2 separate regions of the Homo sapiens genome follow, and region 2 is linked to region 1. Evidence: fine-mapped expression QTL. Tissue or cell type: whole blood. Region 1 holds a variant in brackets; the other region holds the start of a gene. All regions are shown on one strand. Distances are from middle to middle.

Region 1 (11,286 bases):
GGGAAAAAAATACACCCCACCTTCCCCCAGGCACTTCTATTACAGGGATGTGAACTTTGTACCAAAGGCCAGAGAAACATCCCTCTGTTGATTTCCAGGGCTTACTGGTAGGCATGTTGAACCCTCAACTATTTGGGGTAAACACTTGTTTGTACATCTGCTGTGGCAACCTCAGCCTACTTGCTCTGCCTCAGGTTGGAGAGGTGGGCAGTACAGAGGCCTGTGTGTAATTCCAGCCAAAGCTCAGGCAGTGGTTAGTTTACCCTGTGCACTGCCCCTGTGTACAGGGCCAGGTCCTTCTGCTCCGTGGACAGAGAGACACCTGCTGAGGCTTCCCAGGCCTCAGCCGGAGGCTCCTCATCAGATCTTCAGTTGTCTCTAAAAGAGCTGCCAGGCCCATCTCAATTGGGCAACTGCTCTGAGCTACTCCATCTCCCTCTAATGAACTATGTTCATTTTCTGGACTCTTCCTTGCCACTGTCTTCCAGCACAACTCACCCGCTCACTTTGCTCCCTGGTTTGCATCTGTATAGTGTTCTATACTCTTTAAAGTGCTGTAAGAGTATTAAAATGCAGCTGTTAGCCAGATGTGGGCTACTTTCCCCCTTTCTGGAGCCTGAGCCCTCAGAGGTGAGAGCAGATGTCCCTCTTCCTCAACTCTGGGGCCTTTGGGGAGAAATCATCGTACACTAACGCCTCTCTCTTTACTTTGTTTTCCAGCTGCCCAAGCTGGAACACTATAGACCCAGAGGAGAGGGAAAGGCTGACCAGACGGCATGAAGATGGAGAATTCTGGTAAGATTAGTGGAGGCTTCAGGGAAAGCTCTGTCTGCCCCAATGTTCTTTACTAGAAAACTGCTAATTAGAAAGAGTGTCGGCCAAAGTGAGTTTACCATGTCGAGGACACAAGCGTGTGGGATCCTGGTTTTGTTATTTTAAGTTCACTATAAGAGCCTGAATAAAGAAATTCTTAAGCCCCTTCAACGGTCCATCTTGACAATGGGGTTTATAAGCTGAGCAGCTTCAGAAAAAGGCTAAGAGGAATTCCTTTGGTAATGTTCAGATCCCAGGAAACAAGGGAAAGATGGGGCCTTTCTCCCCCAGGTTCCGGAGACTCATCCCAGCCCCTTAAGAAACTGGTCCCTTAGTGAGCAGCAATGGACCCACATGTCTGTGTGTCTGCGCCACTCTATAACCACCTGCACCTGGACACAACATGCTCTTTATCAAATGGGGCCCATATATTGTCACATTTGATGGGCACGGCTCCCATTTTTGCAGGTGAGAGTTCTGAGCTTCAGAGAAGTTTAAGTAACCTGCTCAAAGTCACCCAGCTAGAAAGTTGCAGCGCCAGGACTGGAATCTGGGCCTTCTGATTCTGAACCTGGTGCCCATCCACTCAGTTCTAATGAGCTGCTCTGCCTGGCTTTGGGTGGCTCCTGGTCTGGTGTTGGTGGAAAGTCAAGGCTTACCAGTGTGTCTTCTTATCACCTGTGATGATTGTCTCTGCTTTTGCCAGGATGTCTTTCAGTGACTTCCTGAGGCACTATTCCCGCCTGGAGATCTGTAACCTGACCCCAGACACTCTCACCAGCGATACCTACAAGAAGTGGAAACTCACCAAAATGGATGGGAACTGGAGGCGGGGCTCCACCGCGGGAGGTTGCAGGAACTACCCGAGTAAGGGCTGTTGCATATAAGGGCTGTTGCAATGCGGGGCCACCAAAGGCCAAAGCTCCCCTTACCCCACCCTGTGTACCACACCCCAGCCTAGCAGCCCCAGGAGGCAGCTCCTGCTCACTGGAACCCTCTCTGTCTTCTTTCTCCCTGAGCCTTTTCTTTTCCCTGAGCCTTTTCTCCCCGAGCTCTCTTTCTCAATCCCTTACCTCCTGCCCTACCCAGGACAAACCCAAGAGCCACTGTTTCTGTGATGTCCTCTCCAGGCCCTAGATTCCCCAGCGCCCATCATGACCTTCAGCCTGACCTTCCGCCATGCTCACGGAAGCAGTGCTCAATCCCACTTCACGGCCATGAGCTGCTCTATGCACCCCACACCCAGGCAGCCGAGCCTACAAGGGAACCTTGTCCCGGCACCCAGGGAGCCCTCCACATATCAGGCCCTGTTTGTTGCCCCATACTCACTTCAATCAGCAAATGTTGACTGGGCGCTGCCCAGATGGGGTGAAGATTTCTCCTCTGGTCCAGCCTTTGTTGAGCCCCTTGATTCTTCTGCCTTCATGGCTTAGTCCGTCAGCAGTTGTCTGAACATGATGACATCTGCCAATTATGGGGCACACCTTCAGTGCTTGGAACTATCCTAAGTGTTTTGTACACAGGGTGAGGATCCATAATCTGAAAATGTGAAATCTGAAATGCTCCAAAATCCAAAACTTTTTCAGCCCCAACATGATACCACAGGTGGAAAATTCGACACTTGACCTCAGGTGACAGGTCGCAGTCAAAACACAGTCAAAACTTTGTTTCATGCACAAAATTATTTTAAATATGCTATAGAATTACCTTCAGCCTATGTGTATAAATTATATATGAAACAGAAATGAGTTTTGTCATTAGACTTGAGTTCCATCCCTAAGATATGTTATGTATATACAAATATTCCAAAATCCAAAAAAATCCAAAATAGGAAACACTTCTGGCCCCAGGAATTTCAGATAAGGGATATTCAGCCTGCATAACATTCTATCTAACCTTCCCAACAAACTTCTGAGGCAGGCACTTTCTTATCACCTCCATCTCTAAGATGAGGAAACTGAGGCTTGGAGAGGCTAGTGACTTGCTGAAGGCCACAGAGCGTGCTGGGATTTGAACCCAGGCCCCCTGACTGAGGAGTCACTGTGTAAGTACAGTGGCAGCAGATCATGGTCACATAGTGATTCTCTGTGACAGATGAGGAAGCTGAGCCTCTAAGTCGCATACCAGGGCCACAGAGCAAGTAGTCAGACTGCGGCTAGCTGGCCTACAGTTCTGGGGCTCGGACTCCTTCACCTCAAGTATGCAGCCACCAAGTGGCAGTCCCAGAGGCGCTGGGAAGGCCCTCTGCCCCCCACAAGGGACCCCTCCTACCCACTAGATCAGGAGTCGGAAAACTCCCTCTAAAGGGTCAGATAGTAAATAATTTTGGCTTTGTGGGCCACTCAGTCTCTATAACAACAACTCTATTGCTATAACCCAAAGGCAGCCATACTTAAGCGAATGGCCGTGGCTACGTTCCAATAAAACGTTATTTACAAAAACAGGCAGCGGCCTTCGGAGCCATAGCTGCCAACCCCTACACAAGATGGTGCCTGTAATTTCACAGTTAGGGTTTTATCCCATTAGGTATGGAAAGGCAATTAGCATAATTCCCCTTAAACATGAATGAATCTTAGATTTTTTAAATAAATAGGTTTTGGAAGTAAAGAGGGCAGAGACATCAGGAGCAGGGCAAGGGAATAGGCCTGAGAGGACAAGGGACGCAGAACAAGAAAGAGTCTGGAATTATACACAGGATGTTCTTGGCCTCCGGGCTCACCGAGGGGGCGGCGACCGGCAAGTGCAGGGAGCAGATCCCGGAGTCCCCCAGGCCAGCCGAGCCCCGCCCCAGGCTCCCCATCAGAGCCCAGTGAAGAGAAGGTACCATGAGGGGAAGCCACAGCTCTAACCACCCTGCGTTCCAGAGTGACAGACCAGTCCCCAAGACAAGCCAGCCTGGAGCCAGAGAGAGAACTGCAAGAGAAAGTTTCTAATTTAGGTTCCTGTTAGATTCAGACAAGTGCAGGTCATCCTCTCTCCACAGCTACCGTCACCCGTCTCCAGCCTAACAAAGCCTGCAGTCCACACTCCAACCCTGGTGTCTCCCACCTCCTAGCCTCTCCCAACATCGCCTGCCGTCTCTGACCATCTTCTGCCATCCTCTGCCATCTCCCACCATCTCCCACTGTCTCCCACAGCCTCCCACCGCCTCTTGCCAACTCCCACCATCTCCCGCCATTTTCTGACATCTCCCGCTGTCTCCCACCATCTTCTGCCATACTCTGCCATCTCCCACCATCCCCCACCACCTCTTACCATCTCCCACCACCTCCCACCATCTCCCTTTATCTCCATCCCTCTCAGAAGCCTCCAAGCCTGAGACCAGGGCCACCCCCCACCCCCATGCATTCCTGCTCAGGGCTGGGCTCCTCTGCCCCTTTCTGGCTGCAGACACATTCTGGATGAACCCTCAGTACCTGATCAAGCTGGAGGAGGAGGATGAGGACGAGGAGGATGGGGAGAGCGGCTGCACCTTCCTGGTGGGGCTCATTCAGAAGCACCGACGGCGGCAGAGGAAGATGGGCGAGGACATGCACACCATCGGCTTTGGCATCTATGAGGTGCAGAGCGCAGGGGCTCCTGCCCTCCCTTCCCCATGTGTTCATCTCAGCCCCTGCATGGAAAGCTGACCCCAGAGGCAGAACTGGGGATGGGATCCCAGACCGGGAGCTTGGCCAAGGAAAAACAAAACTACCAGCCTGGCCAGGCTCAGGAGTAGCCCCCGTAGGGAGGCCCCTGCAGTGGCTCTGGGTTGTGGGGCCTTCTAAGCCCTTCACGGGCCCCCCACAGCCAGCCTGCAGGGAGTTCCACTCTCAAATGGCCTCCACATCCCTTCTCACATCCTCCAGGCCTGGCATTCTGGTCAGCCTACCCATCTTCAAAGAACAGAATATACTGGGCCACATCAGGCAATACTGTGAGGGCAGGACTGAGTCCATGGGTGCAGCTGCTCAGAGCTCGGCAAAGTCATTGGCCTGGATGGTGGAGAGCTTGGGGACAGGGGAACATTGGTCATGATGCTCCCCCCAGGGCTCTGATGGCTGGAGCCCAGATCCCTACACAGACTCCTGCTGTATGCGTGTTTTCCTTTCACTCTGAGCCACAGCCAGAGGGCAGCCGCATTGCAGTCTCCTCTCCGCCCTCAGGCTGGGGCTGGGGCACTGAGAACTCACCCAACACGCTGGGCCCCTGGGCTCTCCCCACTCCCTTCTGCAAAACAAGAAAGAGCTTTCGTGGGCTGCAGGTAGCCATGCGAGGAGAGGGATGAAAGGAAGGCTTTAGGGCACTGACTGGGGATGCATTTCGGTTTGATGGGCTGGAGCTGGCTCCTCCCGGCTCCCAAAGCCCATCTCTTTTCTCTGACCCATGTCTGCTGAGGTCCTTCAGCAGCCTGAAAAATGGCCCTGGCAGGGACCTGTTTACACCATGGAAAGTGGCAAATAGTACAAATCAGAGCTTCCACCCTCTCCCAAGAGCCAGTTTCCCAGCACACCCCTGGGAGAATCCAGACGAGGTGTCAGGAGAGGAGGCTCTGTGCTCACCACTGGCAACGTTGCCACCCATGGAACACTGACTTCTACCTGCTCACCCACCTGAGAAAGGCAGCTGGGCAAATACCATCAGTTGTAAAAATGCACATAGGCCTAAACCCCTCCGTCTCTGAAACAGGAGCTGAGGACTTCGGATCTGGGACAGAATCGATCCAAGGACAATGCAAATGGAATTGTGATACACAGCTTCCCTCCCACCGGCTTATGGGCTTGGAAATGCAGCCACGGGCTTTCAGAGTTGGGACGGACCTTGGGGATCACTGGGTCCTATTTTTGAGACAAGAAAACTGAGGCCAGAGAGGAGAGGGGACTTGCTCAAGGAAATGCAGACCGGACCACTGGACCTGGCTGACAGAGGCCGGCACTGCTGGCTCCTAGCCCCAGGTGTATTTCACCT[C/T]GCCTGCTGCCTCCTCCAACAGGGCCCGCCTGGCCCTCTTTCCCTGCGTGGGAGGCCGATATGGGCTTTGCCACCTTAGACAAGTCTCTTCACATCTCCATGCCTGAGATTTATACTCTAAGTTAGGAAGGGAGGTGAGGGCTTATCAACATAAGAGGATTTTCTTCAGTGTTGGAGAGGCTTTGAGTTCCTTGGAAAACAGTTACTCGGTTGAATTAGTTGATATTGCTAATGCTACAGAGAAAACGGGGGCAGCGGAAGAGAAGAGCACAGTGATGCATTTTCTTACACTGCTTTTCCGGCATCTGAATTGCATCTCCTTTATTTTGCAGGTTCCAGAGGAGGTACGTCTGGCCCATGTCCCGGGGTGCTCAGGTCACCAAAAAAGCGAGAGGCTTAGACTGCTGGAGCTCAGGGAGCGTCGTGAAGCCCGGGCAGGGGCTGGTGGTCATGAAGGATGAGTCCTGGCCACCCCTGGGGCCCTGCTGAAGTTGCCCAGGCTCTAGATCCCACTGGTCTAAGCTCTGGGCAAGGTTTCTGGAAAGTCCTTGTGGGACCCGCTGCCTCCCTGTGACCTGGCAGAGCCCATACAGGGTTTGGTTCTGGGCAGAAAATCCATGATCCTGAGACTGCAGGAGGCTTTTCACAAAGTTCTTTGTCACTCTTAGGAGAAGACTGAGTCAGGGAAAAGGTGAACCCTGCAGACTGTACTAGAAGACAACGCGGGAGCACAGAGGAGACCAGGACCCAATTCCCAGGCTGTGTGACCTTGGACACGTTACAGCTCCTCTCTGCATTTCAGGGTTTTGTTTTTTTTTTTTTTGATTTTTGGTTTGTTTGTTTGTTTTTTGTCTCGCTCTTTCACCCAGGATGAAGTGCAGTGGCATGATCTCGACTCACTGCAACCTCTACCTCCTGGGTTCAAGTGATTCTCCTGCTTCAGCCTCCCCAGTAGCTGGGACTACAGGCACGCACCAGGATGCCAGGCCAATTTTTGTATTTTTAGTAGAGACGGGGTTTCACCATGGTGGCCAGGCTGGTCTTGAACTCCTGACCTCAGGTGATCCACCCCCTTCAGCCTCCCAAAGTGCTAGGATTACAGGTGTAGCCACCGTGCCTGGCTGCATTTCAGTTTATTTTTCAGTAAAACTGGTCAACCATCCACCTCACTGCACTACCGTGGAATGACTTAAATTTTGCGAGAGCATTTGGGCCCACAGTCACCGCTTGCTGAAGCAGATGGGATGCCTGGTCCAAGGTCACGATTATTAAAGTAGACACACGGGGCACTTTGACCCACCTGTAGTACATTTCTTTCACAGCAAGGCAGTGCAACCGGTAGCACATCGGGCTCTTTTAGATGCTGCTCCAGCCTTGGTCCGGTGGATCATGCTTGGTTTAGAAGCTGGGTTGTCTTTCTCCTGCCCCCAGTCCTGTCTTTGCTTTTATAGTGCATCATACACCACGTAGAACCGAGCCAGGTTCCTGCCATGTGGACGCTGTTCCTGCCTGAGAGTCTCTTAGAGGAAGGCTGGGAACACTGTGGAAAGACTGGGCATCTCTGCAGGCGGAGCTGAATGGATGTGAAACCCCTGTGGGCATGTGCTTCCGAGTTCCTCAGCAGGCATTTGTGTTTTTTGGTAGAAAGTTTGCTTTTTGTTTTTTTTTTTTTTAAGACAAGGTCTCATTCTGTCACCCAGGCTAGAGTACAGTGGTGTGATCATAGCTCACTGCCGTCCTTGAACTCTCAGACTCACGTGAGCCTCCTACCTCAGCCTCCTGAGTAGCTGAGACTACAGGCGCTTGCCGCCACCCCTGGCTAATATTTTTATTTTTTGCAGAGACAGGGGTCTCACTACATTGCCCAGGCTGGTCTCAAACTCCTGGCCTCGAGCAATCCTCTCACAGCCTCCCAAAGTGCTGGTATTACAGGCGTGAGCCACCACACCTAACAAAAGTTTGCTTTTTATCTAAAATGACCCAGGCATTGTCACTGTACTGCTATTTTTTTAAAAAAATTTTGTTGTTTTGTTGTTGTTGTCGTCGTTATATAGATGAGGGCTTCCTGTGTTGCCCAGGCTGGTTTCTGACGCCTGGCCTCGCCTCCTTATACACCAGGACAGCAGGACTGAGCCACCACACTACCCAACTGCTTTTATCTCAGTGAATGAAAATGATACTTGCCTGGAGGCTTCCCCTCATCTACCCCCATGTTTCTCTATTTATTCCTCAGTTAAGTGGGCAGACCAACATCCACCTCAGCAAAAACTTCTTCCTGACGAATCGCGCCAGGGAGCGCTCAGACACCTTCATCAACCTCCGGGAGGTGCTCAACCGCTTCAAGCTGCCGCCAGGAGAGTACATTCTCGTGCCTTCCACCTTCGAACCCAACAAGGATGGGGATTTCTGCATCCGGGTCTTTTCTGAAAAGAAAGCTGACTACCAGTAGGCGGTTTGGTCCCTTCCTCTCCCCACCCTTCCCTGTCCCTCCCCACTGGTCTGTTCCTCGGCCCCTAGAGGGCTCTTTCATCCTCTGAATGTCAGTTACTTTTTCTGTAACACCTGCCCACCTCGAAGGACTAGTGTGGGGATTTGATGGATTGAGGAAGTTCTAGTGTTATAGTAAGGTAAACAATGGAAAAAGCCACTGTGGATATTTTTGGTTGGAAAGGGGTGGCTGTACAGTGAATTGCAGGGTCTAATTTCATAAGCGTGTCTCTGAATTCTCAAGTTGGTACTTTAATGTTAAACTACGAATCCAGTCTCGTCATTTGAAGAAAGCTGAGCAGTGCTGGTGTAATCCTTGATTTTCCAGGCCACCTGGCCTAGCAGAGCCACCAAGGGTGTAAGGTGGGAACCATCTCAACGGTTCCCACCTCCAGAACCTCTCCCTATTATAGTTGTCATGTCACCAGCTCTCTCTCCCCTTCCTCATGGGATCCCACGTTTGGGAACCCTTTGTGGCTGACATCACCATTTCCTGCCACTGTCCAGGTGGCCTCAATTCACAATGGCTTCTGCCACTTTGACTTCTGCCTCAACCATGTATGTTCAGCTGGGCACTTGATTGGCAAAGGCAGAATCTACCCTGGGTGATTTAAGCTAAAGGGAATTCATCGAAAGGCCATTGGAGACTCCAGAACTGATGGGAGGTAGGGGGTCAGGCTAGGAAGAACAGGAGCCAAGGATGTGTTGGAGGACCAGGGTGTGAGATGACCCCTTGGACTCTGGGTCATGTGCTGAGGTCTAAAGATCTTGTGGAGTGTGTCTGAGGTGCTGGGCTTGGGTCAGCCACCTGGCCTGCTGGTTCCTGTAGAGGAAGAGCCAATGGGAGGTAGAGGCAGGGAACTGCCCTTGCCCCAAGATAATGCATGATGCAGAAATAATTTCCCATGGCGAAGGGAGACAAAGCAATGCCAGGCAGCTGCATACCAATGAATGCCACCATAGCACGGCTGTAGCCCCCCTGCCACTGACAGGCTGTCTTCATTTGCTAAAGCCTACCATGGGGGAAGGGACCTTTCCTCTCAGCTCTGAGGATGCTTAGAGGAAGACTGGTGTGTTCAGTTTAGTCCTCACTGACAAGAAAATAGGAGCATGACCTGGTGGCATTAGAATAACAGTGTCCTTTGTCAAACTCATTACTCTCCCTGCCAGCCACAAGTCACTCTCCCAGGGAAGCCTCAACCCCTCAACTCTCTCTAGGGTGAGCTCCCTACCCCAAGAGGACACCCCACCTCTCAAAGGTTTCTGACTTCCTTGTCCCAAAATATTAATCCTTCTGCTCCAGATTCCAATGATCAGCACCAAGAGGTCCCCTTTTCCTTCTGCCAGGCATTGGCCCTGCTGATAGGACTCTTGGTCACTTAGTTAAAATCACAGTGGCCCAAGGAAGAACCTCCTGAGCTTGATTACCCTCACTATGGAGCAGAAGGACCTGGCCCTGGACACAGGGGCGGTGCACAGTATAAACTAACCACTGCCTGACCTGAGCTTTGGCTGAAATGACACACAGGCCTCTGCACTGCCCACCTCTCCAACCTGAGGCAGAACAAGTAGGCGATGATTTGCACTGCATGATTCTCAGTGTGAAAGTCTATGTTGGCAAAGGATATTTCAAGTGGAACTTAGAAGCTATTCCTTAAGGCTAGGACGAACACCACGCTACACGCGAAGGCTATCCTATTTGATAAAGATCAAAAACTAGCAAACAAAAATCTCCAGCTGCCCACGTTGCTTTGGTCATGACCCTTCCTTCAGATCACTTCTGCCTTTATTTTTGCTGTTTAGGGGATGTGTTATCACAGAAACTTGGAATGCAGAGAAATGTTATCACAGAAACTTGGAATGCAGAAAAATTTTTGCTTTTTAGGGGAGGTGTTATCACAGAAACTTGGAATACAAAGACCTCCCCCCACCGCAGCCCTGCCCCACCCCACCTACCCCCTGCTGGATTTAGCACTGCACTTCCATTTTAGCAGTGATTTCCTTCCTTTTTGCCCTCGCCTGCCTTCCAGTAACACATAATTTCCTTCTATTTCCAGAGCTGTCGATGATGAAATCGAGGCCAATCTTGAAGAGGTATTTGTAACTCTTTGAATTTCACCCACTCTGTCCTGGACAATCCAGAGAGCAGAGGAGCAAAAAAACTCCAAGAGTTTTTGGACTTCACGAACAAAGCCTGAAACTAAGGATAAAGCCGGGTACTGGGAATCCAAGAGTCGACTACCTGCATCAGCTCTGGCCTCTGTGCTGGGGGCATGGGCCAGTCCCTTGCCTATTGGGCTGTGCTAGCCACTGTCAAAATCCATCCACAACATTCCAGCTAGTCTTTATTCTTCTGAGTCCCCACTAGAATAGATCCTAAAAGGCCATTTTAATTGGATGCTAGAGAAGATACCTCTGTGAGAAATTAGAATATTACTCCTTCCCACATAATTTACATTCCTTCTTGTGTTTTAATTAGAAAAAAAAAACCTTATATTAATTCTTCACACTATACCTGATCTTAACCCAAATCACCGTAGAATTTGGGCCCCAGGGAGGGGTAGAGAAGGGGAGTGGGAGGTGGCTGCCATGGAAGGGCGGGCAGACACTTGGTGTCATGCCTCGCTCTGATGCATTCTCATGTCTCTGCCTCACCTTCCAGTTCGACATCAGCGAGGATGACATTGATGATGGATTCAGGAGACTGTTTGCCCAGTTGGCAGGAGAGGTAAATGTTCCCAAAAACGATGTTATGCACTCTGGTTGATGCAAAGGAAGAGACAGTGTGTGTCCCCAAGGGGACTTTAGTTTAAAGGGGAGAGGAAACAAACTGAACAAAAGCAAAGAGAAATTGCAAATGGCACTTGGGTTCCAGCTCAGCCCTCTTGCGTGTGTCCTCCCTAAGACCTCCGCATGCTGCCGGGGGCTTCCATTTGCATGGTCAGCCCTGACTCTGTGTTCCTCCTTCCTTAGGATTCCTGGGCTCACCTTGTGACTGTTTTATTTTCTCTGTTCTACACCAATTGAGGCATGAAACTT
Region 2 (8,269 bases), 44 kb before region 1:
GGGTGTCAGAGACAAGAATAGATGGGGGCAGAGGAATAATAGTGACAAAAATACTTGCTTTAAGAAAAGGTAACATCATGGCTCTCATATTAGTATAAAATAAACACATTTTAAAGATTCCATTTCGGCAGGGTGCAGTGGCTCACACCTGTAATCCCAGCACTTTGGGAGGCAGAGGTGGGCAGATCACCTGAGGTCAGGAGTTCGAGACCAGCCTAGCCAACGTGGAGAAACCCTGTCCCTACTAAAAATACAAAATTAGCCAGGCATGGTGGCAGGCACCTGTAATCCCAACTACTCGGGAGGCTGAGATAGGAGAATCACTTGAACCTGGGAGGTGGAGGTTGTGGTGAGCCGAAATTGTGCCATTGCACTCCAGCCTGGGCCAACAAGAGTGAAACTCCATCTCAAAAAAAAAAAAGAGTCCATTTAACTTGATTAAACGAGGCAATCTGGTGGATGTTATAACTGGTTCAAAGGAGAAACCAAAGCAGCACAATTTACATGACGTGAAGAGTACTGAAATGGAATATGCAACTAGACAAAAAACTGGTCTCTCTACAGGGGGACTGTAGTGCCTCTACTGGACAGAATGCATTTGCATATCTATAGGAAAAATTATTTTCCATTGCTACAGTTATCTACAACTTAGATTACTTACTTAGAGTTACTTAGGTAACTATACATTGCTACAGTTATATACAACTTAGAGTTATAAAATAACTCAAAAACAATGAAAGGGGCTCGTGTGGTGGCTCACACCTGTAATCCCAACACTTTGGGAAGCTGAGGCAGGCGGATCACCTGAGGTCAGGAATTCGAGACCAGCCTGGCCAACACGGTGAAACCCCATCTCTACAAAAAATATAGAAAATTAGCCAGATGTGGTGGTGTGCACCTGTAATCCCAGCTACGTTGGAGGCTGAGGCAGGAGAATCGCTGGAACCCGGGAGGCAGAAGATGCAGTTAGCTGAGATCGTCAAGATCCTGTCACTGCACTCCAGCCTGGGTGACAGGGTGCTACATCTCAAGAAAAACAAAAACAACAACAACAACAACAAAAACAATGAAAGGCTAGACCCAGATCTTCTGGAAGGAGATGCTCTAAACCAGGGTTTCTCAGCCTCTACATGACTGATGTCTTGGACTAGATCATGTTTTGGGTGGAGAATGTAAACCAAAAATAAAATTCTAAGCCTCCCCCTCCCCTACCCCCGCCAACCATCTAAATGGATGGTTCCTCCTTAGCCGAGGCTCTTAAAATTTTAACCTGAAATTTTCAGGCCATGAAGGAAAGGCAAGGTCGGACATGCTTCATTATACCTCTCCAGCGTGAACATCAACCAGAGTTTAGGTCTGATAAGAAACATTTTACTGCCTGTTCACTCTGAAGCCTGCTAGCTAAAAGCTTCATCTATGTGATAAAACTTTTGTCTCCACAACCTCTTATCGCAACCCAAACATTCCTTTCTATTGATCCTGGGCCTTTAGACAAACTCAACCAATTGTCAACCAGAAAATGTTTAAATATTTACCTATATCCTGGAAGCCACCCCCACTACCCACCCACCACCCCCCGCCACTTTGAGTTGTCCCGCCTTTCTGAACCAAACCAATGTATTTCTTAAATGTACTTGACTGATGGCTCTTGCCTCCCTAACATGTATAAAACCAAGCTGCACCCCAACCACCTCGGGCACATGTCCTCAGGACTTCCTGTGTCACAGGTGTGCATCTTCAACCATGGCAAAAGAAACTTTCTAAATTAAATGAGACCTGTTTCAGATTTTCTGGGTTCACAAGAGCTATCTTGGACATTGGAAGATGTTCAGCGGCATCCCTGGCTTCTACTTAGTAAAGGCCAGTAGCACCTCATCTCCTAGCTGTGACCATAAAAACTATCTCCAGACATTCCCAAATGTCTCCTGGGGTGGGTAGGGGACAAAACTGCCCCCAGTTGAGAACCACTGCTGTAGACCATGCACAGTTTTCCAGTGAAACCCAAATTCTTCCCTACTACTGTAGAGAAGAAGAGGAGGTAATTTCTGCCCATCTGCATTTCTTGGCACGCACCCATGTCTCTGTGTGTGAGATGAGAATCACACCCTAGCTCCACAACAGAGTGGTCACAGTAGCCAACACAGGCAGTATTCTAAATGCTCTCTCCCTATAGTAACCCAACTAATCCTGCCAGTTAAATATGAGTTTCAGGTAAACAATGAATCATATTTTCTTTTAGAATAAGTATGTATGCCCATGCAATATTTGGGCCCTACATATACTTTAAAAGTATCTGTTGTTTATCTGAAATTCAAATTAAACATTTGGGAGGGTTGTTGTTTTATTGGCCAAATCATTTTATTTTATTTTATTTTTGATATGGAGTTTCGCTTTGTCACCCAGGCTGGAGCGCAGTGGCGCGATCTCGTCTCACTGCAACTTCTCCCTCCTGGGTTCAAGCGTTTCTCCTGTCTCAGCCTCCCGAGTAACTGAGATCACAGGTGCCTGCCACGACGTATTTTTAGTAGAGACGGAATTTCACCATGTTGACCAGGCTGGTCTCGAACTCCTGACCCCAGGTGATCCGCCTGCCTCCGGCCTCCCAAAGTGTTGGGATTACAGGTGTGAACTACCGCACCCAGCCTTATTGGCCAAATCTGACAACCCTATCTATAATCAAATAAACAGCTGAGCAGTAGTAATTGCAGCATTGTGATTGCAATAGGCCTCCGGTGGCTTAGAGTCCCTGTTCTGCCTGTGACTGTTGTGCCACATTGGGGACGTCATTTAGCGTCTCCGAGGCTCAGTTTTCTCATCTGTAAAATGGGGACAATATCAGCGCCTTCTTCAGAGTCGCTGGGAGGATTAAATGAGATGATGTATGCAGAGCCGTTAAGACGCTGTTTGGCACAAAGTTCAGGGCAGCTGGTTTAGTTTCCTCGACTTCACTACCTGACCCTCTGCTAACTCCCCGGGTGTTTTCCGGACGGCCACAACTATCCTAGCCTTCTTCCCTATGGGCTGCAAAGGTGGCCTCGGGTTCCGGTGGGAGCCCCAACTCTGGACCGCGATTCGCGAGCCTCCCCGGCGCCGGGCCGCGCCATCCCGGGAGCTGTCCGCAGATGGCAGCACCGGCCCCGGGTCGCGGCGTTCCCGGCGCTCGGCAGGCCGCAGGATGGCCTGGTCCCGGGCCGGGAGCCCAGCAGGCCGGGAGCGGCTGAGGCCACACCCCGCGGGCCGGGCCGCTTCCCTCCGGTGAATCATCGCTCGCAGCGGCGGCGCCCGCAGTGGCCGCAGCAGCGCGCCGGGCCCTGGCCGCGCCCCAGCCGAGCGCAGCGCGGAGTCGCCCCGACCTTTCTCTGCGCAGTACGGCCGCCGGGACCGCAGCATGGCGGGCATCGCGGCCAAGCTGGCGAAGGACCGGGAGGCGGCCGAGGGGCTGGGCTCCCACGACAGGGCCATCAAGTACCTCAACCAGGACTACGAGGCGCTGCGGAACGAGTGCCTGGAGGCCGGGACGCTCTTCCAGGACCCGTCCTTCCCGGCCATCCCCTCGGCCCTGGGCTTCAAGGAGTTGGGGCCCTACTCCAGCAAAACCCGGGGCATCGAGTGGAAGCGCCCCACGGTAGGAAGCGCGCGGCAGGACGCGGGCAGGGCGGGGTGCCGGGCAGGGCGGGGTGCAGGCCGGCCCGCGGCGCGCTGGGGCGGGGGGCAGCCCGGGTGCTGCAGTGGGGAAGCCGCAAGCCAGGACCTCGCAGTCCTGCGACACCTCCGCGCCGCCAGAGCCCGGGACTCTGTTCGAGCGTGGGGGGACTCCCGGGGCCTTCCCTCTCTTCCACCCACCACGCTTTCCTGGGCGGGTCGAGGCGAATCACTGCCCTCAGATCCCACTAGCAGGCCACTTTAGGACTTCACAAAAACTCAGGGTGATGCAGGAGGCCGGGGTGAAACTTTGATTGGACTCTAGCGGGGAGCTGGAAGGGAAGGGGAATCGGGTCTGCAGGGAAGGGACGGTGAGAGGCAGCATCTACCAGACAAAGTCCGTCTCCAACTGGGGTTCTGTCTGTTCATGGAGGGGGACAGGCCATAGCCTGGTCATTTTGTGACTAAGGATAGTCTCCTGCAGCCCTGGGGTTAGATTTATTTTTCCAAAGGGGAGCCAGCGATACCTCCTCATAACATTGACACTGGTAATTAACCCAGGACACGGAGGTGTCTCATGGTTTCCCTGGCGGGAATCACCCGGGAAACCTCCGGGAGCCCTCCAGACCCCCTTATCCCGTCCCCCAGGGTCTCTGACCTCCCGGCCCTGGGACAACTTGTGCTCCCCAATCTACTTGTCCATTCTGTTTCTTGGGGAACCCCTGAGGCTCCTCCTCCTTTGGGACACTTCCCCAGGCTTCCCCTACCACGCCTAGGAAAGCCTGCCCTGAAGTCCAACTTCTAGATTCCTGTTGTGAGAACAAGGCTTCCAGCTCTGCTTCCACACCCAGCAGCCTCCCAGGTCACCTTCTGTTACCCTAAATCCAGCCCATAGGTAGCAAGGGCTGCAGGAAGCGCCCTAGCCCAGACTCAGAGCACTTGGGTTCTTCTTCTTGCTAACCTGCTGGTGACCTTGAACGAGCCATTTAACCTCTCTGTGCCTCCATGTCTTCATCTAAAAGAAAACATGCTGCCTAAATATTTTCTCTCTTTTGTGGCCCACTAGGCCCTGCCGTCATGGCCTCCTTTCAGTCTCTCAAAGAGCCGGTTCTTTCCTGCATGAGGCCTTCTCACCAGCAAGGCACGCTGTTACCTGGAGTGTGGCTCACTCTCATTCTTCCCAACTTAGTCACATGTTCCCTTCCTAAAGAGGTCTTTTCTGACCCTTCTTAGCAGCCACCTCCCCACCTTGTTTTTCTCTGTCACCCCACTCATTTCCTTCATAGCATTGTCACAGTTTAGAATATAATCACATGTATTTGTTCTTCCTACTGAACTGCAGGAATCATGTGTATATTATTTACCAGTATATCCCCAGTGCCTGACACATAACCATGCCTTTCACAGTATTCATTCATTCATTCATTCATTCATTTACTCACTCATTTGACAACACTGATTGAGCACCTGTTACATGCCAGGCACTGTCCTGAGAGCTCAGGAGATACACCAGTGAACACAAAAGAAGTGACTGTTTGTAGAATATGGATGCAGGATTGTAATGTGCCTCAAATGAAATTATGGTTGTGAAAGTGATACGCTGACCTGACTCAGTGCCTCACACCTGTAATCCCAGCACTATGGGAGGCCAAGGTGGGAGGATCGCTTGAGCCAGGAGTTCAAGACCAGCCTGGGCAACACAGTAAGACTTGTCTCTATAAAAAAGTAAAAAAAAAAAAAAAAAAAGTGAAACACAAACCAAGAGAATGTGTTCACTTTACATTTGCATGGCACTTTACAGTTTACATAGTGAGTTCACATACTCATTCACTTATTCTTTCATTCATTCAGTAAGCATTTCTCGAATACCTACTATATGCTGGGCACAATGCATATGGTTTCTGCTTCTGAAGACTTACTTCTGAGGCTAGTGAGGGGACAGAGACAGGTCCCCCAACAGTTGGAAATGCCTGTGGGACTTCCAGATGAGGATGTAGAGGTCTAGAGATGATCTAGCGCCACTGCTTAGGGCAGGCGGGCTGTGCACTGCACAACTAAGGAAGAGTGTGACTTTTACGATCCCCATTTGCCAGTTGAAGAAATTGAGGCTTGGGAAGGTTAAATACTTGCTCAGAGTCAAGTGGATATAGGGCATAGATCCAGGACTGTGTGTAGTCTGTGCATGTTGAGCCTACCCCTTATGGCTGCGCTCTCTGCCTCCTTCCTACCTTCTCAAATGCTGCTGAGGTCAGGCAAGGGGAGCACAGTTGTTTCCGCTGGATTTGAACACTAGCAAGTCATTGGTGAGTTTAGCAGAGCAATTTCAATGGAAAGGTGAGAGTAGAAGCCAGATTGTTGTAGACTCCAGAGTAAAGGAACTGGAAATTAAGAACATGATCAACTTATTTAAGAAGGACCCCCGGGAAGAGAGGAGAACTGATAGGTAGAGTAGGACCTGGACTTTGAGAGCCTGTGTTTTTTTCATATGAGAACAACTTGAATGTGTCATATGTTGAATCACCAGGAAGAAGGGATTAAAGATAAAGGCAGGGAGGGGGCAGTGAAACAGGATCCCTGAGGAAGTGAGAATACGGGTTGTGGGCAGGGGAGGGGAGCAGGTTAGCCTTGCAGCAGGAGGAGCTGCTCTTCCTCGGAGAGAGGATTTCACAACACTGGCAAGAGTGGCTCCAGTGCCTGGAGCGGGGATTAAAGCAGTAAGTCCAGTGGGGTCCAAGGGCCATGCAGGGGTACAGTGAGGAGAAAGCAGGTGTGATCCGGGTGGCACATCAGATCCTTCCAGCAACCAGTCTGTTAGGAGCAAGGGCAGATGTTGTGAGCCCCTATGTTTCCCCCAAGAAAATCAAACCTCTGAGAGGTTTCTCACTTGCTTATCTTCAGCTGGCCGAACTCAGCCTCAAACCCATATGTCCTGTCTCCAAGTTCAGTGACTGTTATCATCAACTTCTTCAACAGTAATAATAATAGATCACATTTATGGAGTGCTTGCCAGGGCATGTTTACATCATTATCTCATTTAACACTCAGAACAATCCTCTGTGGTGGGTGTTTTCATCGTTCCCATTTTGCAGGTGAAAAAACTGAGACTTCAAAAGGTTAAGTGACTTCCCAGGGTCCTACGACCTACATAATAAGTGGCAGAGCCAGGATTCAAACCTAGGTTATCAGAATAATGCAGCAAAGCCCAAACCCTCAGCCCCTTTTCACTGACTGGTAAGACCCATATTTAATTCGATGCCCTACATGCCGTGCACAAGTTTCAGTTTTCTGAAGCATCGCTTAGATGCTTAGGTGTTTAGCACCACTCTGAACTCTGACTTTTCTAGAGAGGCTGCTAAAGGCATTAGAAAGTTTCTGAAGTATAATGGAAAAACCCTGCTGGAGTAAGTGCCTGGCACACTCAGGATTATCAGTGTGATTCTTTATAATAAACAGGCTCCCAGCACCAAGCCCAATCTATTCCATCAGCTGGATAAGAGCTCTCTGGCAGGCCTTGGGCCAAGCTGGCTTCCTTTGCCTCAGCAGAAGAGCATTCTGATTCTCTCTGCCATCCCCAAAACTGACAGGAGCAGAGAGAAACAAGGCAGAGGCATGAAGGGAATGTCCTCTGCGGCAGATGGTGCTTCCGGAAGAGCTCCCACAATCTGAGCTAGAATGAACAGGGGCTAGATCCAAGTCTCATATAGGCATACTTCTGCTTGACAGAGTGGGCATGCCGAGGGCCGTTGGGTGGAGGCAGGCGTGTGCAACCCAAGCAGACATGAGACGCAGCTCCTTCAAGGCAAGGTTGCCTGAGCCCAGAGAGGCTCAAATTTGTGCCCCAACTTCCTCTGTGGCTTTTGGGTGGGGCTCTTCAGAATCGAAACACACTCAGAGGGCTGCTGAAAGGGCTAAGAAGTGTTCAAGGTTGGCTTCCATCAGGCTGCTCATGACAATGGCCCCTGAGGTTTTAACACCCTTGAACGCTTGGTACTAAATCAATTAGAGGCAGGGCAGGAGCAGAAAGAGTTGGCGCATTTGATCAGTAAGTTCCAATGCCAGTGCTGTCTATTATCTGTGAACTGTGTTAACTTTGGACACGTCACTTCACCTTTTTGAGCTGTTTCCTCGTCTGTAAAAGGGGGATAATACCCATTCCATGAGGTAAAGCTTTGAGCACAGTCTCTGATGTAAGCAGGTACAGAATATATAGATGCTGTAAGTTTCATGGTCCCATGGAAGAATTCAAAAGGGTTAGATCCCGCCTGCCCTCAAAAGGGTATGTGTTAGGAAATCAGAGTAATACCTAAGTAGTAAATTGCAGAGTCCAGAGACTCTGGGACTCAGACTTGAAGGGATGAGTGAGGATTGGACTAGGACGACTTCACGGAGGAGGTGACAATGAGCCTCAAGGTATGATGCAATATGGAAAAGGAGGGAAGAGAGTGGGAAAGGAAGGAATTTCATGCAAGCAAAACAACTTGCATGCAGTAACAGAGGAGAGAGGATGCTAACCCAGTGGATAGGGTGGCTCTAGAGTGTGGATGGTCTCCACGTCTGGCAGAAAAGGCTGGACTTGCTGCTGTGGCCCCCGGGACACAGCACAATGAAGGAGGCTCCAGGCAGTCCA

What was found. PIP is the estimated chance that this variant, and not a neighbour inherited with it, causes the effect.
Region 2: it holds the start of CAPN2, and the variant in region 1 is fine-mapped to the expression of CAPN2 in whole blood (TOPMed, PIP above 0.99).

Annotation. Positions count from the first base shown.
Region 1 is chr1:223,751,277-223,762,562 of GRCh38, forward strand. It overlaps CAPN2 (calpain 2), which reads left to right. Exons shown (of 21, transcript NM_001748.5): 8 at 721-795; 9 at 1,520-1,680; 10 at 4,204-4,373; 11 at 6,093-6,104; 12 at 7,994-8,205; 13 at 10,305-10,341; 14 at 10,910-10,975. Among named protein-coding and RNA genes, the nearest start is that of CAPN2, 44 kb to the left of the region's middle. RefSeq lists a silencer at 1-265 and an enhancer at 969-2,168. The variant C/T (reference allele first, on the strand shown) is at 5,761.
Region 2 is chr1:223,709,253-223,717,521 of GRCh38, forward strand. CAPN2 (calpain 2) reads left to right here and starts at 3,287. Exons shown (of 21, transcript NM_001748.5): 1 at 3,287-3,625. The coding sequence starts at 3,389. RefSeq lists enhancers at 2,884-2,933, 2,973-3,924 and silencers at 3,034-3,423, 3,634-3,753.